3 separate regions of the Homo sapiens genome follow, and all the other regions are linked to region 3. Evidence: fine-mapped expression QTL. A gene starts in region 3. Each other region holds a variant in brackets. All regions are shown on one strand. Distances are between the middles of the regions.

Evidence for each region.
Region 1: its variant is fine-mapped to the expression of GIT2 in whole blood (TOPMed, PIP 0.99).
Region 2: its variant is fine-mapped to the expression of GIT2 in blood mononuclear cells (TOPMed, PIP above 0.99).

What each region holds. Positions count from the first base shown.
Region 1 is chr12:109,926,760-109,934,938 of GRCh38, reverse strand. It overlaps GIT2 (GIT ArfGAP 2), which reads left to right. Exons shown (of 20, transcript NM_057169.5): 19 at 854-917; 20 at 1,749-5,135. The coding sequence ends at 1,961. Among named protein-coding and RNA genes, the nearest start is that of TCHP, 31 kb to the right of the region's middle. RefSeq lists enhancers at 1,112-2,311, 8,008-8,179. The variant A/G (reference allele first, on the strand shown) is at 5,116.
Region 2 is chr12:109,889,127-109,897,305 of GRCh38, reverse strand. It overlaps a transcript of TCHP not described here. Among named protein-coding and RNA genes, the nearest start is that of TCHP, 7.1 kb to the left of the region's middle. RefSeq lists a silencer at 5,429-5,488. The variant GC/C (reference allele first, on the strand shown) is at 4,648.
Region 3 is chr12:109,992,299-110,000,477 of GRCh38, reverse strand. It overlaps GIT2 (GIT ArfGAP 2), which reads left to right and starts at 4,110. Exons shown (of 20, transcript NM_057169.5): 1 at 4,110-4,305. The coding sequence starts at 4,254. It overlaps ANKRD13A (ankyrin repeat domain 13A), which reads right to left and starts at 1,048. Exons shown (of 15, transcript NM_033121.2): 1 at 694-1,048. The coding sequence starts at 789. RefSeq lists silencers at 835-924, 935-1,054, 4,370-4,459 and enhancers at 1,135-1,324, 3,940-4,099, 4,790-4,839.

The DNA of each region.
Region 1 (8,179 bases), 66 kb after region 3:
GCCCAGCTAATTTTTTTGTATTTTTAGTAGAGACGGGATTTCACCATGTCGTTCAGGCTGGTCTCAAACTCCTGACCTCAGGTGATCCGCCCGCTTTGGCCTCCCAAAGTGCTGGGATTACAGGCGTGAGCCACTGCGCCCGGCCGACAGTTTTAATTATAATAGTTTTGAAACTAGACTTGTTACAAAGGTGAAGTGCATAAGTTGCTTATGACAATCTATTCAGAAGCCAACTTCATGGTTTAAAAAATGGGGAAAGGGCTGGACACCGTGGCTCACACCTGTAACCCCAGCACTTTGGAGGCTGAGGCAAGAGATTCACTTGAATCCAGGAGTTCAACACAAGGCTGGGCGACATAGTGGGACTCCTCTACAAAAAAATATTTAAAAATCAGCCAGGCATGGCGGTGCATGCCTGAAGTTCCAGCTACTTGAGAGACTCCAATTCTAATTTTAAGGAATTTTTTCAGTCCTTTATTTTTCACTTCTGTGGCCTTTTGCATGGAAATCCTTTCTCTTTCTAGAAATTGGGACGATGAAACACATGAGAAGTAAATGACTGACGTGAGGAGGGGTGAATTATGTTTCTGTACTGTTGTGTGGCCTCACCTGACCAAGAGTGTATGTTGCCATATTTCATACCTGGAGACTTTTCATCAGATTGAACTTTTAGGAAGCAATGAGAGTCCTGCTTTATAACCATGTGCCCTCTGGTGGTGTGGGATGCACGGCTGACTGCAGCCCTAGCCCCTTCATGAAGGGAATGTAAACAGAATCTGTTCTAGCACTTGAGTCCTCTTTGCCTCCGAATCATTTTTACTGTCATTGAATAACTTCTTCAATATTCTTGCAGTTATATTCCCTGCTCAGAGAGGATACACGTAGCTGTTACAGAAATGGCAGCATTATTCCCCAAAGTAAGTCACTTCCTACTCACTTGGTTTAAATCCTTTTAAATGAACAGCAAGAAATTTCTTTATGACCTATATATTACATTAGCTTTTTTGTAGCACATGCAGTTTTAAAATATGCAGTCGAGGCCGGGTGTGGTGGCTCACGCCTGTAACCCCAGCACTTTGGGAGGCCGAGACAGGCAGATCACCTGAGGTCGGGAGTTCGAGGCCAGCCTGACCAACATGGAGAGACCCTGTCTCTACTAAAAATACAAAATTAGTCAGGCGTGGTGGTGCATGCCTGTAATCCCAGCTACTCAGGAGGCTGAAGCAGGAGAATCGCTTGAACCCAGGAGGCGGAGGTTGCAGTGAGTCAAGATCGTGCCATTGCGCTCCAGCCTGGGCAACAAGAGTGAAACTCAAGTCTCAAAAAAAAGTAAAATAAAATAAAATATGCAGTCGTATAGAGCTTTGAAATATTTTTGTTCTGCATGAATGTTGATTTAATAAGACAAGGATATACAAGTCGTGCTAAAAGGCACATTTTAAAATTTATAGGATTTTCTGGAATATTTTACCCACATGGATTAATATTTTTCAAAAACTACTTCAAAATACCACATACTACTAAAATTACCCTGCATGCACTTTGACCTTTGAATCAGAATATTTCAGCATCTCTTACGCTGTGGGCTGCAAAGCTTGGAGTGTGTGAAGCACCCCTTTGAGAAAGGGCAGGACCAAACCGCCTTTCACTCTGGGGAGCAGCTTGGTTTGCTTTAGAAGAATGTTTGTCCCCTGCTTTTGGATGTCTGCCCTGCAGTTCAGGGTAAACGGCTGTCTTTTTCCTTTTAGAAACCCAAGTCTGATATGGTGAGGACTTCCCTTCGTTTACTGACGTCCAGTGCCTACCGACTGCAGTCAGAGTGCAAGAAGACCCTCCCAGGGGACCCCGGCTCACCCACAGACGTTCAGCTGGTCACGCAGCAGGTCATCCAGTGTGCGTACGACATCGCCAAGGCTGCCAAGCAGCTGGTTACCATCACCACCAAAGAGAACAACAACTGACAAGGGCAGGGCACCGCCTCCTCTGTTTTCTAGGCTTTATAAAGTCCAATTTCAAATTCAGACGCAGAACTCTTCAGATTTCTACAAAAAGAAACATTTAATGACGGTTTAAAACTTTTTAAAAGAAAACTCAGTATTATTTTTGCATGTTTTCTAACCAATTTTCAACTATTTAACCCACTTGCCTTATTTTGTGCCTATTTGCTGGTTTAGTTTCTGATGTTCGGTTGTGTTGTCAACAACTGTTGAGTTGATCACATACATCCAAAAGTATAGTTTCATTGTCTAAAGTTTGTGAAAACTTTTCCATCCCTTAAAACTCCCTGCCTATGGCTGAAACTATAAATGAAATTTTTCATAAAACATTTTCTTGAGAGAGTTCAGTTAAAAAAGAAAAAATCAGCGTCATTTGTTCCCTGCCAAGCATCGTGCAATAAGTGAATTTCCTGGCCTACTTCATAATCTCTAAGTTTGGGGTATCTCCAAGCATGTATGTAGAGAAAGGACTTTGCCGCTTTTTAAAACTAGTGTCACAGTCTCTCTTGGGAGGAAACAATGAATTGGTTCATTTCTTCTCAGTGTTTTACCCTGTTACATGTTCTGTTATTTAATGTTGTTATCTCAAGCTCCTATCTCTTGATGTTTTCTTGTCATCTTGAAGGCTCCATGGAATGAGATAAAGCATTGACCCACCACAGGACATCTCATGAAGCCATGTTCAGGGTAGGAGCTCCACGCACATCACCACCCATTGTCAGGTGCTCTCCCTCACCCCTGTAAGCCAGACAGTTTGTTCAAAACCTGCAGCAAAGAGAAGCATCAGTCTAACAAGCCAGAACTCATTTTGTGCCACCCATTTAGGTATCACTACCATGAACTATAGGGAAAAGAAATCACCTACTCCCTGACACTGTGTTGTACCCTTCATCCAAAAGTCAGCTTGCTTCTCTGACCACTTACAGCTTTCTCACATGAGTTGCTTCACATTTTTCATCATCTTTAAGGACTTCTTATAAGGAAAGATGTATCGTATCGCAGTCATCTGAGTTAGTTTCTCCTCCATCACCTCATGAGTACTTAAAAATTAGACATCAACTTTCAAGAGTTCCTTAGAGAGTGTGCTCTAGCTGGCTGCCTGCTACCCCAAAGCTCTGAAAGAGTAAGGTTGAAGTGCTGGAACATGCTCAGATTGTTTTTTAGTTACTCAAAAGCCCCTTCTTGTTCTGAATGTGAAAGCTCTTCCCGTTCCTGCTTACTGCAGCCATTCTGTGTGTGTGGTTCAGACCCTGGCCTAGGGCCGGTGATGTGGATGAGTGAAGGGAGCCAGGTACACGGCAGCAGGGCAGAGGAGACTATGGGGAGCCCACCGCCTACACAGTAGGGGCAGTAGCCCCCAGCTCCACGCCTGTTGCCATGTGGAAAAGTGGGCCTAGGGTGGCCACAGCTTTGATTTTTCAAGAGACAAGAAACCTAGATGTTTTTTGGTGCCATCTCTCCATTTATAAATGTTGGCAACCAATTTGAACACTTTCAGAGACCATGTGCAGGTGAGCTGTGTCCTCTAGGCTGCCAGCTCACAGCCCCCACCCCAGGGCCCTGTAAGCTGTGCAGTGTGAGGGCCTGGCTTCCCCGGACACACCTGGAGCAGCCTCTGAGTCTTACCCGTAATGGAGCCGGCCAACCCTGTGTGTTATGTTGCTGTCGCTCCTGTTTTTAACCATATGTTCTGTCCCATAGCAGTCATTCACACATGTGAAGAAGACACAAGAATCAAAGTACAAGTTGCCTCAATACATGCTAATAACTAAGCTTCTATTTTCACAGGACTGATCGATGCACACCTTTATAGCTTGACCATATGCTGTCATGAAAGTAGCACCCCGACGGTGCTTGCTTTACTAAGTCACCGTGTGTGGATGCTTTTGTCGCATTTTGCTTCACTGTGAGTAGCATGGGAAAAGGGTCCACGTCTCCAAAAGACTCTTCCACTTGTTTGTCCCACAGCCCTAAGTGCCACATTGCTGTTGGATGCTCCCGGGATGCCTTCTAGAAGGGGGCCTCCCACCTTAAGTTCAGGCGCCATCTGATAGCCTTTTCTGCAGGCTTCATGTCCTTAGCTGACCCTCCTTTATCTTGCAAACCCCTGCCCCTGCTGTCCCAGGGAGGACGGGCTTCTGTAGAGGCTTCTGGGAAATGAGCTGTCTGCAGGAGGTGAAGCAGTGTTTTCCTTGGAATGTTTGAGGACCTGCAATAGAAGATGTTGCCTTTATGGCCCTAGAGAAAGTCAAGGAACATGGGGACCAACAAAGCATTTCCAGTTGTAAGAATATGTCAGAAGAGTGCTCGGTTAGCCCACGGTGCCAAAACTCCAAACAAGTTCCCCGGTGGAATGACGTGGCCATTGGAGGGCTGCAGGTCGTCCTCTCTGTATGTGCCCCGCGCATTTCCTTGGCCTCATCTGAGATCTGGTGTCAGAGTTCTCTGCTCCTGTTGGCAAATCGCACCTTATCTGAACATTTGTTCCAGCCACCTTTTGCACATGGATTCCGTACCTTGCACTAGCAATGTCTACCTTCAGTAACGTCGTTCTTTTTCACCCTGTATTCTCAATGATCCCTTCCTCCCCATATGCCACCCTTCCCCCAAAGCTGATAGGGCAGAGGTGCACTTTATGAAACTGGCACTTGACTGAACAGAAGGAAACAGCTGTACCTCTAAGCTCCTTTCACAGAAATCGTCATCTGCCTTGGAATGCAAATAGTTCTTATTTGCCAAAGAACAGTGAATTGGGCCCAAAGATCAAACACAGCATTTCATGTAATCAGAATTCTAAACGCACAACTCGGGAGCTGTGCACGGCTTCTCAAGTGATTCAGTTGCAGAACCAAGAGCAAAACTCGCCTGTTTTTGTCCTCAATGGCACCCATGAGCTTTCCAATAGTATAGTTTTCTTTCTTTCCTTGTCCTGGTTGAAGGTAACGTGTTCCTAGAAAAGAAAATGCTGCATAGGAAAACTGAGATGCCTTTTATTCCAACGTGTTTGATCCCTGTCACTCATTATTCTGTACTTTTTATTGTACATTCTATTCCTGTAATTATTGTGCCCTTTAAGTGTTGTAAAATCGTTTTGGAATTTGTGCCTGCTAGTTATGCA[A/G]TAAACAGGCTCTACAAGTGTTTTTGTGGTAATGCTGTGCTCCCCATCAATTAGTTGATGTTTCCAGATACTCTGTAAAAGGTCTGAGGAAGTTCTCCCAAAACGCCATCATTAGTGAGATGCAGTGTTTCATATGCTTTGGGGCTCTGCAGTTTTACAGTAATGACTATCTTTTTCTTCCTCTGTGCTTAGCAAATAGGTTTTGTTTTGTTTTGTTTTTTTGTTTTTTTTGAGATGGAGTTTCACTCTTGTTGCCCGGGCTGGAGTGCAATGACGCGATCTCGGCTCGACGTGATCTCGGCTCACCGCAACCTCCGCCTCCCGGGTTCAAGTGATTCTCCTACCTCAGCCTCAGAAGTAGCTGGGATTACAGGCATGCACCACCCCACCCGGTTAATTTTGTATTTTTAGTAGAGACAGGGTTTCACCATGTTGCTCAGGCTGGTCTTGAACTCCCAACCTGAGGTGATCTGCCCGCATCGGCCTCCCAAAGTGCTGGGATTACAGGTGTGAGCCACGGCACCCAGAGCAAATAGCTTTCTTTGAACGCTGCATCAAGATACTAGTTCCATGCATCTTATCATAATATATTTATTCCCTAAGTTTAATGTTTTTTTCTTTTGGAGAGAGGATCTCACTCTGTCACCCAGGCTGGAGTGCAGTGGTGTGATCTCAGCTCACTGCAACCTCCATCTCCTGGGTTCAAGCGATTCTCGTGCCTCAGCCTCCCAAGTAGCTGGGATTACAGGCATGCACCACCACCCCTGGCTAATTTTTTGTATTTTTAGATATGGGGTTTCACCATGTTACCCAGGCTGGTGCGAACTCCTGGCCTCAAGTGATCCACCCGCCTCGGCCTCCCAAACTGCTGGGATTACAGACGTGAGCCACTGTGCCTGGCCCCTACGTTTAATTTTTTTAATGCAGCGAAAGCCAGCCCAGCACAGATGCCCTCCCTTCTTCCTAACAGGTGATGGGGTCCTGGAATGAGCTCAGTGTCTTAAAACCACTGGTCTTATTTTATTTTCAGAGAAAGGCCACCTGTGCAGGTTCCTAGGGGGAGCTGGTATAGATTTGCATGGGGGTTCATCAGGGCTGCCCATGGTCACCAGTGATTGTCCTCTGGTTAGGTGACTTGGGACTCTACTCCCAAATGGAAGAAGGGTGGGGTAGGGCCTGAGCACCACGGGTACTTTTCCAAGTGAGAAGTCAGAAAGATGCCACGTCCTCGCTGTGATCCTGCTTGTTCAGGGGGACGTCTGTGCAGGCTTAGGACCAGTGTCTCACACAGCTCACACCCAGAGCAACCTCCTCAGGCAAGGAGGCTCAAAAGAGCCAGCAGCAGACCTCCTGGAACCCTGGCAGGCTCACCATGCCGGGCCCCCACAGTCTGGTTCAGCAGCTCTGGGGTGGGGCCCAGGAGTAGGCACTTCTAACAGGTTCCAGGGACCACACTCTGCGAAGCTCTGCTGTAGACCGTTTCCAGGCCTTTCCCACCACACAGCTCCTTGGCTTCTGCTTTTAAACATGTTTTAGTGTAGGAGAGTCATGTGAAGTCATCATTATAATTTTAGCTGACATTTCCTCTGTGCCAGGCACTGTGCTGAGTTCTTTTTTTTTTTCTTTTTTGAGACAGGCTGGACCGTAGCAGCGTGATCTCAGCTCACCACAACCTCTACCTCCCGGGTTCAAGCAATTCTCCTGCCTCAGTCTCCCGAGTAGCTGGAACTACAGGTGCGTGCCACCATGCCCAGCTAATTTTTTTGTATTTTTTTTAGTAGAGACGGGGTTTCACTATGTTGGCCAGGCTGGTCTCCAACTCCTGACTTCATGATCTGTCTGCCTCGGCCTCCCAAAGTGCTAGGATTACAGGCGTGAGCCACCACGCCTGGCCTGTGCTGAGTTCTTGACACATGTTCATTCATTTCATCCTCACTACAGCCAGATGAAGTGAGTGGTTTCTTCCCATTTTTCAGATAAGGATGTTTACAGCCCAGGAGGCCGAGCCTCACATCCAAGGAGAGAGTGTGTCAGTTGCTGTCATGCTCCTTACTCCTCTTCACCACCAGGGTGCGCTTCCCAGCCTCCGGCGGAGTCACAATGTTACAGGATCTCTGGGGTGTCGATTTTTCTGGCTGGAAATATCTGGCCAGTGCCTTTGCCTGAGTTCTTGTTGTCCTGCATCCTGGAAGAATGAGGTACGCAGACAAGTGGAGGGTGAAGACTTTTTTTTTCTTTTTTTTTTTTTTTTTTTAGACAGAGTCTTGCTCTGTTGCCCAGGCTGGAGTGCAGCGGTGCAATCTCGGCTCACTGCAACCTCCACCTCCTGGGTTCAAGCGATTCTCCTGCCTCAGCCTCCTGAGTAGCTGGGATTACAGGCACGTGCCACCATGCCCAGCTAATTTTTGTGTTTTTAGTAGAGACGGGGTTTCACCATGTTGGTCAGGCTGGTCTCGATCTCCTGACCTCGTGATCTACCCACCTCAGCCTCCCAAAGTGCTGGGATTACAGGCGTGAGCCACCATGCCTGGCCAAAGATTTTTATTTAGTGTTAGAACAGCTCCTCTCTGTAGGCAGGTCGTCCCGTCAAGTGTTCAGCTGTCAGCAGAGAGGAGGCCCTGGAGAGGGTGGCTCCTCTCCACAGGCAAGTCATTCGGACGTCTCTGCAGGTCTCTGAAGCTCTCAGTAGAGAGGGTAGCTCCTCTCTGCCAGCAGGTTGTCTCTGCAGCTCTCAGGGGAAAGGGTACTACTCCTCTCTGCAGTAGTAGAGGAGTCGTCCCATCATCTGCAGCTGTCATCAGAGAGAGCACTCCTCTCTGCAGCTGGTTGTCCCGTCATCATCTCTCCGCCCTCTCCATCCTCTGGTCTGCTCTGGCTGAGCCCAGGGCTTTTATGGACCACAGGGGGAGGAAGTGCCTGCCGACTGGTCCATGGGTGGCCATGGGCAGGCCCGTAAGAGGTACCACAAGTCCCCACTCAGGTCTGCAGGACTGGCAGCCTGGCCCCCAGCCTTCAGGCCCCCCCTGGCCTGTAGGTGAGGCCTTACTGGGGACCCTGCCCACTC
Region 2 (8,179 bases), 100 kb after region 3:
GCTGGCCAGACATCCTCACCGGCCCCCACAGTTCAACTCTGAACCTCTTGATTACACAGCTGCTGGCTGTCGCTATTAAGCAACTTTACAAGTGCCTTTTCCTTTGCTCCTCTTGGGCATTCTATGAGATATCTTATTGCCCCCATGTTAGAATTGCCTAAACTAAGCCTCGAAAAGGTGGCATGGCTTGCCTGAGGAGCCGCAGCTGATAGGTGGTTGAGCCATGATTTGAAACCAGTTCTGCCTGATCCCAGTGCCTAAGCCCTCTTGCTGCAACACAAGAGCAGGGATCATCGTGTTCCTTGCTGCATTCCCCATGCCATGCCTTGTATGTGGTAAGCACTCTATCTATCTATCTATATATCTATATCTATCTATATATATATTTGAGACAGAGTCTCACTCTATCACCCAGGCTGATGGAGTGCAGTGGTGCGAACTTGGCTCACTGCAGCCTCTGCCTCCCAGGTTCAAGCAATTCTCTTGCCTCAGCCTCTTAAGTAGCTGGGATTACAGGTGCCCGCCACCACGTCCGGCTAATTTTTGTATTTTTTTTCAGTAGAGTTGGGGTTTTGCCATGTTGCCCAGGCTGGTCTTGAACTCCTGACCTCAGGCATCAACCTCCCAAAGCGCTGGGATTACAGGCATGAACCACCATGCCCGGCCTCAATCAATATTTGTGTTGAGAATGAAAAAGTGAATGGATCCCCTATTTTGAGTACTTTCTTCTCCTCCAAAGGAAAAAGGAATCTATGGTGTTAAGAGAAAGCAAAAAGAAGAAAAGGAACGAGCATTTCTTGAACACCTGCTATGTGCCAGGTGCTTTGAGATATATTATCTCATTTAAGCCTCCCTCCAACCTGGGAGGAGTTTGTTCCTGCCCCCATTTTGCAGATGAGGGCGCTGAGGCTCAGAGAGGTGAATCAACTCTCTTGAGGTCACACAGCAAAGACTATAAAAGCCAGGATTTACAACAAACCTCTGAGACTGTGAATCCCTCTTCAGTGTGTTTTTCTGGGAGCTTGTGGCTTGCAAGTGTAGCTCTTAAAAGAGGCCTGCGGCCGGGCACAGTGGCTCACGCCTGTAATGCCAGCACTCTGGGAGGCCAAGGCGGATGGATCACTTGAGGTCAGGAGTTCGAGACCAGCCTGGGCAACATGGTGAAACCCCATCTCCACCAAAAATACAAAAATTAGCCAGGTGTGGTAGTGCGTGCCTGTAGTCCCAGCTACTCAGGAGACTGAAGCAAGAGAATCACTTGAACCTGGGAGGTAGAGGTTGCAGTGAGCCGAAATCATGCCACTGCACTCCAACCTGGGCAACAGAGTGAGACTCCATCTCAAAAAAAAGAGGCCTGCAAATGTGAACATACAAAGAATTTGGCAATATGAAATATTCAATGACAGGTCAATGACTACGGCGTGCAGGGGGCTGAGAGGGAAAGCCCTGGTAGGAACCCGCAGGTTGGAGCTGCTCCAGGACTTGTGATTTTAGGTATCCTAGCATGGGAGAAGAAAACAAGAACAGGGAGAGGGGGTGACACTATGGGAGCCGCTCTCCATTAGATGAAACATGACAGTACTGGAAGCCGCACAATGCCATCATTTAATTAGCAGGTACCGTTGTGAAGGTATGACATTTCAACACCAACCACTCCAGCTTCTTGCTTCACACCCCACCCCACCTGAAGACAAGACCGCAGAAGTAGACAGGTGGGCTCAAAGACCCTGGGGCTACTAGGCTGCTTCTCAGAGCCCCAGCTTTGTGTTTTAAAAAAATAACAATGGGGTCAGGTGAGGTCATTCACACCTGTAATCCCAACACTTTGTTTGGGAGGCCGAGGAGGATCGCTTGAACCCAGGCATTTAAGACCAGCCTGGCAATATAGAGAGACCCCCCACCCCATCTCCACCCAAATTTTTTTTTTTATTAATCGGGTGTGATGGTGCACACCTGTGGTCCCAGCTACCTGGGACGTGGAAGTGGGAGGATTGCCTGAGCCTGGGAAGTCGAGGTTGCAGTGAGCCATCATTGAGCCACTGCACTGCAGCCAGGGTGAGAGAATGAGACACTGTCTCTGAAAAAAAAAAAAAAAAAAAAGTAATTCTTGAACCTTGAACCATACCATTACTTCAGCTGGGGAACTGTAGTGAATTCCTGTAATTTTATGTTGCCTGGGCAACCATTTTGAATATTTTAGACTTTCTCATATAAAAAGCAGGTCTCAGTCAACCCTTGACATAGTCCATTCTCCACCTCCTCCCAGTTCCTCAAGGTGGTCAACCCAGGTATCTGTCTTATGCAACTGCTGACCCCCTCCCTATGGGACAGCTGAAGACAAACTACTCGACTCACCCCCCGACCCCACCCCCTGCCTGGATGGCACAGTCATGCTGCAGTGACCAGTCCTAGTCACAGTGTGACCTCCTGGAACACATGCCCACTAGCTCTAAACCCAACAAGTAGAACTCCCTGAGGGAAACCTGCTAGGGGAATGCCCTGGACTCCAACAAAGTCTTTTTTTTTTTTTTTTTTTTTTTGGGACAGAGTTTCGCTCTTGTTGCCCAGGCTGGAGTGCAATGGCGCGATCTTGGCTCACTGCAACCTCCGCCTCCTGGGTTTAAGCGATTCTCCTGCCTCAGCCTCCCAAATACCTGGGATTACATACATGCGCCACTACGCCCAACTAATTTTGTATTTTTAGTAGAGATGGGGTTTCTCCATGTTGGTCAGGCTGGTATTGAACTTCTGACCTCAGGTGATCTGCCCACCTCGGCCTCCCAAAGTGCTGGGATTACAGCCATGAGCCACTGCACCCGGCCTTTTTTTTCTTTTTTTTTTTTGAGACGGAGTCTTGCTCTGTTGCCCAGGCTGGAGTGCAGTGGCACAATCTTGGTGGCTCACTGCAAGCTCGGCTTCCCGGGTTCACACCATTCTCCTGCCTCAGCCTCCTCAGTAGCTGGGATTACAGGTGCCCACCACCACGCCCGGCTAATTTTTTTGTATTTTTTAGTAGAGATAGGGTTTCACCGTGTTAACCAGGATGGTCTTGAACTCCTGATCTCGTGATCCGCCCGCCTCGGCCTCCCAAAGTGCTGAGATTACATTTTTTTTTTTTTTTAAGACTGAGTCTCACTCTGTTGCCCAGGCTAGAGTACAGTGGTGTAATCTTGGCTCACTGCAACCTCCACCTCGTGGGTTCAAGCGATTCTCCTGCTTCAGCCTCCCTGAGTAGCTGAGATTATAGGCACCTGCCACCATGCCTGGCTAATGTTTGTATTTTTAGTAGAGATGGCATTTCACCATAGTGGCCAGGCTGGTCTTGAACTTCTGACCTCAAGTAATCCACGTGCCTCAACCTCCCAAAGTCCTGGAATTACAGGCATGAGCCACCGTGCCTGGCCTCCAATAAAGTCTTTAGCCCATATTTCTCTCTCTCTCTGTCCCCATTGGTTAAGCACACATGTCCCAAATAGCTTCCCATTTCCATTGGCTATGCAAACCCTGCTCGCTGCTCTCTGGATCTGTGAGTAATAAACTGCTTCTGCTATTTTTGTTGAGTTGCTCCCTCTGTGTTTCACTCGACCAACACACCTGAACTCAATGCTCACCCCTCCCGGTCAGGCTCTCCTAGAGAGTGGCTGTCTTGTTTGGAATAAACTGGATATAGGTGAAACAAGAGCCACAAGGGCATCAGCCGATCTCAACATGTTTCCTGGGAGAAGGACACCTGGTCATGGGTCATGGGACACTTTGGCATTAGGCAAGCCACCAGCATAAAGAAGTATCCTGTGAAAGACACATGATAAACATCCAACTTCCTCCCCAGAGCTAGAGTTCTCTCTGGGGACTGGGCCCAAGAGCAATCCTTGGTGACAAGATGCCCTGCTGGATCTGATGCTCACAATTTTTTTTTTTTTTTTTTGAGAAGGAGTTTCACTCTTGTTGCCCAGGCTGGAGTGCAATGGTGCAGATCTCAGCTTAATGCAGCCTCTGCCTCCCAGGTGCAAGCGATTCTCCTGTCTCAGTCTCCTGAGTAGCTGGGATTACAGGCATGCACCACCACACCCAGTTAATTTTGTATTTTTAGTAGAGACCATGTTTCACCATGTTGGCAAGGCTGGTCTTGAACTCCTGACCTCAGGTGATCCACCCACCTCAGCCTTCCAAAGTGCTGGGATTACAGGCATGAGCCACTGCGCCCGGCCTGATGTTCACAATTTAAGACCACAGGTTCCAGCTTGCTGAAGCTCACCCCACCCAAAGCCCTTGCTTTATAGAGGAGGAAATGGGGGCTCAGAAATGGGGAGTGTGTGCCTAAATGAGGTAAGTGGCAGAGCCAGCGTGATAGTGAAAGCAGCTGGTAGACTCCGTGTGTAGAGGCAGAAACTGAAGCCACAAAGAGGAGGAGACTCAGCCAACACCTGCTTACCAGTTACTGAACCTTGATTGTCCTGTTCCTGGGTGACCACCTTCATCCTCACAGTGTCTCTAGGAGTATGAGTTAGAGTAACCCCACTGAGGCTTAGAGTAGTTGGGCAGAGCACTCTGATGGTCTTTACAGTGCATCAGGGTTCCCATCCCAAATCCCGCACCAATTCCCTTCTGCTGGGGTGTCAGGTATGGGGCACAGTCCACCAAAATGGG[GC/C]ATCAGGTCAGTCCTGTGTTTTCTGTGACTTTCCTGCCCACAGGCACCCACTGGCCATTCCTGGATGACAGACAACCTCTACTTCCTAAGTCCCAAAGTTCAAGATGACTGGTAGACCACATCAGAGCAGTTCCATCATCTTCTCAGCCTTGAACCTTCCATGGCTCCCCATTTCCCTTGGCATGAAGCCCATACCACTGTGTCCAGCCTGGTCTGGTCCCCTGCTGACATCACTGGCCACACTGGTCATTTCTTTATCTCTCACCACCACCTTTCCTGCTATGCTGTTCCCTCTGTCTGGAAGACCCTTCCCCTCTGCTAACTCCTACTCAGACTTCAGGATCCCAGTGTAAATGTCCCTTCCTTGGAGAAGCCCTCCTGATTCCCTCTGACCAGGTCACTTGGTGTCAGGACATACTGTATTTTTCTTCCATAGCTTTCATTGAAGCATTAAATAAATGATTTTTTTTTGAGATGGTATCTTGCTCTGTTGTCCAGGCTGGAGTGCAATGGCACAATCTCAGGTCACTGCAACCTCCACCTCCTGGGTTCAAGCAATTCTCATGCCTCAGTCTCCTGGGTAGCTGGGACTACAGGCATGCGCCACCACGCCCAGCTAATTTTTGTATTTTCAGTAGAGACAAGGTTTCTACTGAAACCTTGAGTAGAAACTTTGAGACAAGGTTTCTACTTGCTGAGGCAGGTGGATCACCTGAGGTCAGGAGTTGGTAACCAGCTTGGCCAATATGGTGAAACCCCGTCTCTACTAAATATACAGAAATTAGCAGAGCGTGGTTGTGCATGCCTGTAATCCCAGCTACTCAGGAGGCTGAGGCAGGAGAATCATTTGAACCTGAGAGGCAGAGTTTTCAGTGAGCCTAGCCAAGATCTCGCCAGTGCACGCCAGCCTGGGCGACAAGAGCAAAACTTCGTCTCAAAAAAAAAAGCAAATATTGGGGCTGGGCACAGTGGCTTACACCTATAAACCCAGCACTTTGGGAAGCCAAGGCAGGTGGATCACTTGAGGTCAGAAATTCAAGACCATCCTGGCCAACATGGTGAAACCAGTCTCTACTAAAAAAAAAAAACCCAAAAAATTAGCCAGGTATGGTGTTGCGCACCTGTAATCCCAGCTACTTGGGAGGCTGAGGCAGGAGAATTGCTTGAACCTGGGAGGTGGAGGTTGCTGTGAGTGGGGAGATTGTACCACTGCACTACAGCCTGAGCGACAGAGTGAGTGAGACTCTGTCTCAAAAAAAAAAAAAAAGGAAATATTAAGAAAGCCCATTACTATATCTTCTCCTTTAGTTAGAACTGACCATAGCACATTTACTCACTCAACTACACAGCATTAGAAGTACCAATAAAAATAAGCGAAAGTTACAATTTTCCTATAGAGAAGGATGTTTAAACTGTGCTTACTATAAAATTAATTCAGTGAGGAACTTTGGTCTTTAGATTTTGCTTCAAAATTAAACCTAAGTGTTCCCATGGAATCAAAACTGTACAGGTAGTTTACCATAGAGGTACAAATTCCAATGTGATTTGTTTTGTTTTCCGTATTCAAAACATTTTCACCCAGGGAAGTTAATAAGAGAAGAAAGGAACAAATACCCTAGGGGTTCAAAACCATTACCCGGACTCGTTAGCTGCCAGGCAGAGGCTGTGTGCTAATGCCTGTCCTCATTTTTGAATGCTCAGATTCATACATGATTCATTGCCATTAACACCACCAGTCTGTGAGCTCCTTGAGAGAGCTCCATCTTTGACCCCACATTGCCTGGCAAAGCCTGGTCTGAGAGAAAAGTTCCAGTAGTGATTGCGGAACTGAATGGAATGAAAAAGGTCAGCTGAGCACGGTGGCTCGTGCCTGTAATCACAGCACGTTAGGAGGCCGAGACAGGTGGATCACCTGAGGTCAGGAGTTCAACACCAGCCTGGCCAACGTGGTGAAAGCCGGTCTCTACTAAAAATACAAAAATTAGCTGGGCGTCGTGGCATGCACCTGTAGTCCCAGCTACTCGGGAGGCTGAGGTGGGAGAATCGCTCGAACCTGGGAAGCAGAGGTTGCAGTGAGCCGAGGTCACGCCACTGCACTCCAGCCTGGGTGACAGAGTGAGATCCTGTCTCCAAAAAAAAAAAAAAATAGAAAAAAGAAAAAGGTTGGCTTGCTCTCTCTTTCTTTTTGGGACAGGGTCTTGCTCTCTCACCCAGGCTGCAGTGCAGTGGCACAATCATGGCTCACTGCAGCCTCTATCTCCTGGGCTTAAGCAATCCTCCAGCCTCAGCCTCCTGAGTAGCTGGGACCACAGGCACATGCGCCCCCATGCCCAGCTAACTTTTTTTTTTTTTTTTTTGTAGAGATGAGGTCTTTTGTGTTGCACAGGTTGGTTCATTTTCATGTTTCTTCAATTTAATGATAATGGTAGTGTGCTATGACACTGTCTTAGGATTGTGACACAGTCAGGCTTCCTTAGAACAGTTTATCCATGTGAGACTACAAAGGCCAGGCCCTCTCAGCCCCTGAGGCTGCCCCTGTAGATGGAGGACAAGGTGGCATTCTCCCTCTTCTCTGTGCTGTTAAAATGATCAAAATACTATTTTTATCCAGTAACTGAAAAAATGTCCAAAACTTGGCTGTATCCCACTTGGGTGTTTCCTGGGATGACAGCAAGTGGGCCTGTTGGCGGGTGCGCCTTCGCATTAATTAGGGAGAGGCGGCAGACGGGCCCCAAGAAGCAGCAAGGAGAATTGGCATGGTGGCTCTTAACACCCAGAGGAGTTGGCTCAACAAAGCCCATTTGGCACATTTAGTCCTGCTGAAAACCTGGCAGTTGGGGAGGTGACATCACTGGAATCAATTATCCCCACAATTGCCAGTCCTGGGTAGAAATAACTCCGTAAATCGATTCATAATAGCCACACCATTCATCGAGGGCTGCCTGCCTGCCAGCATGCAAACTGCTCTATCTACATTAACCCATTGAAATCTCACATCAGCCCTGACAGGGAGTTAGCATTGCTACTGTCCTAACTTTACAGATGAAACAACAGAGGGAAGATTTACACACACACAGGAGAAGCTCACATGAAGATGGAGGCAGAGGCTGGAGTGAGACAGGAATGCCTAGAGCCACCAGAGGCTGGAAGAGGCAAGAATAGATTTTCTTCCAGAGTCGTCTTTTTTTTTGAGATGGAGTCTCTCTCTGTCACCCAGGCTGGAGTGCAGTGCAGCAGGCTCACTGCAAGCTCTGCCTCCTGGGTTCATGCCATTCTCCTGCCTCAGCTTCCTGAGCAGCTGGGACTACAGGCGCCCGCCACCACGCCCGACTAATTTTTTGTATTTTTAGTAGAGACGGGGTTTCACCGTGTTAGCCAGGATGGTCTCGATCTCCTGACCTCGTGATCTGCCTGCCTCGGCCTCCCAAAGTGCTGGGATTACAGGCATGAGCCACCGCACCCAGCCCAGAGTCGTCTTTTACTTTTAATTTTGTAGAGATGAGGTCTTGCTATGTTGCCCAGGCTGGTTTC
Region 3 (8,179 bases):
AAAGCACTTTAGAACAGGAAGGGATTTTAAGGAGCCTGAGAACCCGTGATTCTCAAACTTTGCTAGGTATCAGCCTCCCTGGGGAGTTTGTTAAAAATGCGGCACCTGGACCTCACCCCAGACCTATCAATAGAGTCAAGTGTTGGGTTCTGCCCCAGCACCAACATCCTCATTCTACAGCTAAGTTAACGTCGGCCAGAGAGGGAAAATGCCTTGCCCAAGGTCACAGGGCGAGTTAGAACCTGGACTCCAAAACCAACCAAGCCCTTCCTTACAACAAGGAGAGTGTGCTATTCTTACGTCTTTGAGGCAGCAGAACCTAAAAATGGTTAAGACGGTGCATTCCGGAGCCAGCCGGCCCGAGTTAAAATCCCGACTTGGCATTTATCAGCGGGGCGGCCTCGCACAAGGCACGTAGCGTCTGAGGACCTGTTTCCTTCTCTGTCCAGTGGAAAAGTAACAGTACCTACCCACCAGCGTTATTGGAAAGGTGAAGAGAGAAGATATTTAAAAAGCCCGTCGCACGGTAAGCACTCGATACGTGTCCTATTATTAGGACTGTCCCACACCTGCAAAGTGGAAGGGGTCTGGGGATCCCGGGGACAGAGGGCTGGAAATGGGCTCAGGGAGGCGAAACGACCCCCGATTCCCCGAAGTCCCCACCGGGAGACGGACCCCCGCCCCGCCCCTCACCTGGCCCTGCAGCTCCTTCTCGAGCTGCCGGTAGTCGTTTTTCCAGACTAGGAGGTGCAGGGGGTAGTGGTCGCCCGCGTCGCAGGCCGAGGACATGGCGAGGAGGCCGTAACCTGGTCCTCGTCGCCCGCCCCAAGTCTCGGCCCCGGCGGGGTCTCCCGCGCCCGCCTGCCTGCCCTGAGGCCGGCGAGCAAGCGAGCGTAGGGCGTGTTACGCTGCCGGCCGGCTGAGCCGGTCGGGTGCGGGGCGCGCGGGAGGTCCGGGGTCGCCGGCCGGCTCAGGGACCAGGTCGGCCGCGCCCACCCCGCGCCCCGCGGCGTTCCCGCCCGCGCTGACAGCTCGCGGACAGACTTCTGCGGACCTAACTGCCCCAAACAGGGAAGTGCGGAGAGCGAACCACCGCATGCCGCGGCGGGGATAGGCGACCTTGGGCACCGGGTCCGGGGTCCGCGCCATTGCACCCACCTCCAGCTCACACCGAGAAACTCAGTGCAGCCCACAGAACAGAGCTGAGGCTCATTCTCTTGGCCAAAGATCTCCACGCGGAAAGTTCCGTCTACCTGTCCCCAGCTTCTTTCCCCCTGCTCCAGTAGCCCCATGTGGTTCGGTCCACAACTGGGCCTCTTCCATTGGCTCTGAAGTCAGGGGGTGACAACTGAGCCCCGGACCAAACCATTCCAGCTGCCGACACCCTTGCAGCCTTTTTGGAGCAGGACAGATGCTTCCACGACGGGTCAAAAGCCATTTTGGAAGTGGGCAACACCGGACAATTTTTGAAGGAGGAACGCTAAACCCTGGCGAAGTGGCTTCAAATACAGTATTTGCATAAAAGGGGATATTTCTACTTCATGATTTCTCAACCTCGGCACATATTGAACTGGGCAGTTTTTGTGTGGGGGTTGTCCGGTCCTTGTAGGATGCTGAGCAGTTGCCCTGGTCTTTCTCCCCACTCAATGCCAGTAGCACTCCCCAAAACATGTCTCTCCAGATATTGCCAAATGTCGTCTCGGGGAGAAAAATCGTCCTCAGTTGAGAACCGCTTCTATTTGAACTCCGAACCGGGTTATGATTCAATAGCTAACTATGGTGGTGATTTAGTCCATGTATGAATGTCATTTTTAAGCTAGCTTTTTGGATTTGAGGTTATGGCTGAAAGGACTGATAAATAATATACATATTTGACCACAGTCTGCGAATATGAAGTTTATTCTTTGAGTTTCAGGCACTATGCCTCCTTGACTCAATGAAGAACCAAATCAACTTACAGCTAGCTACTCATGGGCTTGAACTTTCTGCTGCTGCTTCAGCTCAGCTGTCTACAACTAGACCACATAGCTGGATGAAGCTATTTAATGCATTGTGAAAACATTCCCTCTGCCCTCTGAGTGTATGCACATCCAGCTCTTCAGATGCCTGCAACAACAGCTGTTCAAGAATCCCAACCTAATCCATTCTCCACAGATGTGGAGCCCAGAAGATTTGTGAGTTGTTAAACCAAAACAGGATGCAGGAGCACCAGGATGGCACCCGGAGACTCTAACCATGGAATGCGTGGGAATTCTGTGATTATTTCTCCATCACACATTTATCACACTGTAGAGATGGACTCAAGACCAGTGCTTCTGAGGCCTTTTCCAGCACTTCTCATTCTTTCAGATGCCTTTTGCAACTTAACGTTCTCCTTCTTCTTCATCATGCCGTGTTTATTGAAAATCTCCCTATCTCATTAATCAGAAAACCCCATAATGACAGGAACCACATCGTTTTGCTTACCAGAGTATCTAAAACCAAAATAGTACCTGGCTAACAACAGGCATTCAATATTTGCTGAATGGAGATCATAGCTGTGTTTATATGTAAGACAGACAATAAGTAGTCATTGGTATTAGGGTCACATCTCCTTTCTCCTTCACACTGATTTACCTCATTTCATTGTGTTTATCTCACACCATTTTGTAAATTATCCCATGTTAGCTATTGTTATTCTCAAATTCCACGCATATGAAGAAAAACAGTAATTAGAAAATAATAGCAATATCCATAATTATGGGAGCTACTATTTACTGAGGGGTTACTATCCAGCAGGTGTATCACATTTTTCCCATAATTTATTCCATCTGTCCTTAGCCAAAATGAATGTTTAACTTTGCTGGTCACATACAAGTTTTGTCGCATATTCTTCTTCCTCTTTTTCTTTATTTCCCTCTCTCTCTTCTTCATTTTCATCTCGCAACCCTTTAAAAATGTAAAAATCATTCTTAAGTAGCAAGCCATACAAAAACAAATCGTGGACTAGAAGTAAACAATGCATTATCTTAATTTTGAACATGAGATTAAAACTGAAGCCTAAGGAATCATCTAATATATTCTTTTTTGTTATTTTTGTTGTTGTTGTTGAAGTTGTTTTTGAGACAGTCTCGCTCTGTCCCCCAGGCTGGAGTGCAGTGACGCGATCTCTGCTCACTGCAACGTCCACCTCCCAGGCTCAAGCGATTCTCATGCCTCAGCCTCCTGAGTATCTAGGATTACAGGCATGCGCCACCACGCCCGGCTAATTTTTTTTTTTTTTTTTTTTTTTTTGAGACGGAGTCTCACTCTGTCGCCCATGCTGGAGTGCAATGGCGTGATCTCAGCTCACTGCAACCTCCACCCCCTGGGTTCAAGCTCCTGCCTCAGCCTCCCAAGTAACTGAGATTACAGGCTCCTGCCACTGTGCCCGGCTAATTTTTGTATTTTTAGTAGAGACGGGGTTTCACCATGTTGGCCAGGCTGGTCTTGAACTCCTGACCTCGTGATCCACCCGCCTCGGCCTCCCAAAGTGCTGGGATTACAGGCGTGAGCCACCGCGCCCGGCCAATTTTTGTATTTTTAGTAGAGATGGGGTTTCACCATGTTGCCCAGGCTGGTCTCGAACTCCTGCCTCAAGTGATCCTCCTGCCTCAGCCTTCCAAAGAGTTGAGATTACAAGAGTGAGCCACCACGCCCAGCCTGGAATCATATAATATATTCTTATTTTACTTTACCCCAGTAAAATGCAAGCTTCATAAGGACTAGAAATTCAGTCTTTGCTCACTGCTGTTTCTCCAGTGGCTGGGACAGTATATAAAGCATGGTAAGTGCTTGATAAACATTTGTTGAATCAAGGAATGAATGAATGAACTTGACCATTGATTGCCTCAGGAAGGTTGTGGCTGCAGGGTTCTCATCACAAGATATTGCTACTTCCCCTGGTATTAATCAGTTGGGACGAGGGGAATCTCTGCCAGAGAAGAAGACCCAAATTCAATATTTAAAGGTAGGACAGATGATACTCGGGCAGTCTCCTGCCCTCACTCAAGATGGCGACAAGGCAGAGTGCCCTTTCCGGTCACATGACCTGACACTCGCCGAAGGGCACCTCCCCGCGCGTGCGTGCTGTGCCAAGGCTGCAAGGCGCTGAGGGGAGAGGCGCCGCCGTCAGCGCCGCCGCAGCTGGGACCCGTTAGAGCGGAAGCGCCGCCGCCACCGCCGCCTTTGCTGTCCCCCGGCCTCTAGTTCCCCGCAGGTGGGAGGTGGGAGCCATGTCGAAACGGCTCCGGAGCAGCGAGGTGTGCGCTGACTGCAGCGGGCCGGGTGAGTCGCACCGGCCGGGCCCGCTCCCCTCTGCTTTCCTGGCCCGGACCCCTACCCCGGGGCCGCCCCCTCAGGTCAGGCTGCATCCCGCGGCTAGGGTCGCAACGAAGAGGTCCCTGGGCGGCCTTGGGGTGGGAACCGTCCCGGGCCTGTCAGAGCCGGGCGGGCAGGGGGCCGCCGCCCTCCCCGTCCCTCGCGGCCCTCCCTTCCCTCTCGTTCCCTCCCGTTCCCTCCGTCCTAGGCCAACTGGGGAGGTGACGGGGGCCAGGGCTGCTCCCCCAACAGGAAGGGGCTTGGGCAATCCACAGGAAAGCCAATTACAGAAGTAAAATGTGAGCGTCCTCCCGGCTGCAGCCTCCAGAGGCTGCAGGTGTCACCTCCCACTAGACCCTTTCTCCGCCTGGGTGTCCTGCCCGGGGAGGATGACACTCCCTGAGACTCGCCAGAGGGTCCCCGTAGATGACTTCCCCGCTGCTGACATCCGACAGCTACTCTGCCCGGGAGAATTGCCAGGAGATCGGGGTCTTCCAAACACAACCAGCACTTAGGAGGCAGTGCTTGTCTCAAGTTTGAGGATCTGAACGGCCTGGGTTCAAACTAGATTTTGCTTCTGGCTGACCTTGGGCTGGTGACTTCACTTGGTCACTTGCTTGATTTCCTCATTTTTTTCAATGAGGATAATCGGGAGTATCACGCTTAGTGGTGAGGAAGATTCAATGAATACTCGTAGAATCATATCATCTAAGGCTTTTCTTTTTTGCATTATGCTGTCTACAGTAGAACTCTTGTAGTCCCTTAAAGCTATATTTGACTATCTAAATCATACGTTGATTACAACGGAAACAAACGCAAAATCACCAGCAATATAGGGGCATTGAAACGCTAAAGCCATTCCTTCATAATGATGCATAACTGTTCATACATAATATTCACATTTAGAGATCAAGTGTGTCTTAGCAATTGCAACTGAATTGTCAGGTCTCTGGATAGATTATTACATGCTGTTTTAGGTGCTTGGATGTATTGGCTTTGAGTTAATTCGAAGGTAACATGGCTTTCTTGGCACAATAGTGTCCGATAAACAATCTTAATTAAATCATTGAACACCACTGGCTTTGCAACTGTTCTGATCTTAAGCTTGTCATTTGGAAGTGGAGACCAATTGTAAATAGAACTGTGATAACTCAAACCTCATGTGGTTGTTTTATGGCCCGTACAGTGCAGGTGTTACCAGTTTCCTTTGAAGATAGGGAGGGGGTATGGAGGAGTTTAAAAAGAAGTGTTTTCTAAACCAAGTTAGTGTGAGTTATACAAACTCCATCATTTTCTCTAAAAATGTTATTTGTTCCACTTCCTTATTTTCTTGCCTATTTTCAGTTGAACTTACCGTGATGTATTTGATTCACATGTGTCTAGCTTCTAACTTCCTCTTGGAATGCATATTGTTTTGCTTCTTGATAGGGTACAGGGCAAAGCAAAATTGTTCCTCCATTGCCATCCTAAATATACTTTTGCAGCATTTTGTGCATTTCAGAACATTTTCTCTTCCATTGTATCGCTTTAGTTGTTGTCTCATACGCCTAATCTGCAGAGACTTGAGTCACTTCCTTCCTGTTTTGAATATAATTAGGCTACCTTGAAATATTCTGTGAAATTGAGCAGCTGGGAATTTGTGCTGCCTTTTCTGCACAGCCCTACTGAGAGAATTACCTGTAGGGTTAGGGACCCCTTTGAGATTCTGTTGAATGCTAAGGCCTTCTCCCCTAAAATGCACGTGAACGAATTTACCTAAGATTTGTCTGGGGGAGTCACAAACATTTTTGAAGTTCATTTGTGGTGTCCCTGGAGCCCTGGCTCCAGATGAACTTAAAGGGTTTTACCCAATCTCATTCATACAAACATTTTTATTTTACTATGTTAACATTCTAATATTCTTTCCATGGGATTCTGATCCAGGATGCTAAAGTGGTTAGTCGAATACTTGTCTTAATTAATATGTGTTAAATACTTGCTAAAAAAAGAATACTGCAAATCCTCTGAATAAGTGAAAACCAAAGCTATGCTTCAAAACAGTCTTTTTTTTTTTTTTTTTTTTTTGCCATTAGTGTCAGTACTATACTGCAGGAAGCAGTGTTGTTAATGCATCTTTGTAGAGCTCCTTCATCTGGACATTTCCAATCTCTGCTTTTTAGGATGATACAGTAATAGCGACAGAGTTATACTAAATTGAATTATTTTGATTCTGTTTTATTTTATGCAAACATTTAACCATGATCACATCTTCTTAAATATTCTACTTTTTTTTTTTTAATGAATCTGGTTCATTTCAAATACATCACACTCTGAGTTCAATTACTTGAAAACTCCATGGAGATTTTCAGTACAGTAGTAGAGTGGTCACATGAAATGTTCAATGTTTTAAGTATTTCCCATCAAAAACTTTGTCCAGTGATCATGAATTTCACGTCTAGAAAATATCTGAATACTGAGAAAATAATTTAGAAAAGATATAACAACTAACATTACTACTTTACTATGTGTGAGGTACTTCACTTATTCTCTATATCCTTACTATCCCGAGATTTGTCATTGTTCTCATTTGAACCATGGTGAAAACACTCAAGTAACTTGTCTGAGATCATTGTGCAAGAAGTGGCAGAGTTGGGGTTCAAACCCTGAACTCCTTGTCTCTAGAGCCAACCCTCTTAACCACCATACTCACTGGCTCCCAGGATTCGTCTTTGATTGAAAGCCCATAACTTTTCATTATATGGTTTGAAAGGGTTTGAATAAACTCTTAAAAAATGGTAAAGATGGTGTACATGCATTTTAGAGATTTTTGTGGACATTGAAGAATTTTTAAATGTAACCCTTTGACCAGGCAGCTTAAGTGGCACCTATTGTCACCCCATTGTGAGTCTGACGAAGTATAGCTCTTTCTTTATTTGAGGTTTCTAGGTATTCAGTTTACTTACCCAGATCCATCCTGCTTGCCAAGTATGAAATTATTCCTTGTTTCAAAGGACAGCTAATGAAGCTCTATGACTTTAAAGGGAAAAAAGTATTATACACACACTAAAAATATTATTCATTTTTATTTTACATCTTTGCCTCTGTGAAGCTGCTGTTATTGCAACTTCTTTTTTTTTTTTCAGATCAGTTGCAGGATTGGACTTGGTAGTTTATGTAAAACAATTAATTGGCTGGGCACAGTGGCTCAAGCCTGTAATCCCAGCACTTTAGGAGGTCGAGGTGAGTGGATCACCTGAGGTCAGGAGTTTGAGACCAGTCTGGCCAACATGGTGAAACCTCGTCTGTACTAAAAATAACAAAAATTAGCCGAGCTGGTGGCACACACATGTAATTCCAGCTACTCGGGAGGCTGAGGCAGGAGAATCGCTTGAACCCTGGAGGCAGAAGTTGCAGTGAGCCGAGATTGCGCCACTGCACTCCATCCTAGGGGACAGAGTGAGACTCTGTCTCAAAACAAACAAACAGACAAACAAACCAATTCATGGACATCATAGAACATTTCCTAATGGAAGAGGCCAGGTTTCCCTGTCCTCAGAACCATAGCAGCTGAGTGATTTTATGATTCTGTAACTCGCAGCTTTCTGCTAAGCATATTGACATGTTGATTCATAGCAGTGAATTAGGACAGCAGTCTACAACATTTACTGCAGAAAATGCTATCTGCATAATTCACTGTCAAAATTATATTATCTTGGCCGGGCACAGTGGCTCACGCCTGTAATCTCAGCACTTTGGGAGGCCGAGGTGGGCGGATCACCTGAGGTCAGGAGTTTGAGACCAACCTGACCAACATGATGAATCCCCGTCTCAGCTAAAAATACAAAAATTAGCCGGGCGTGGT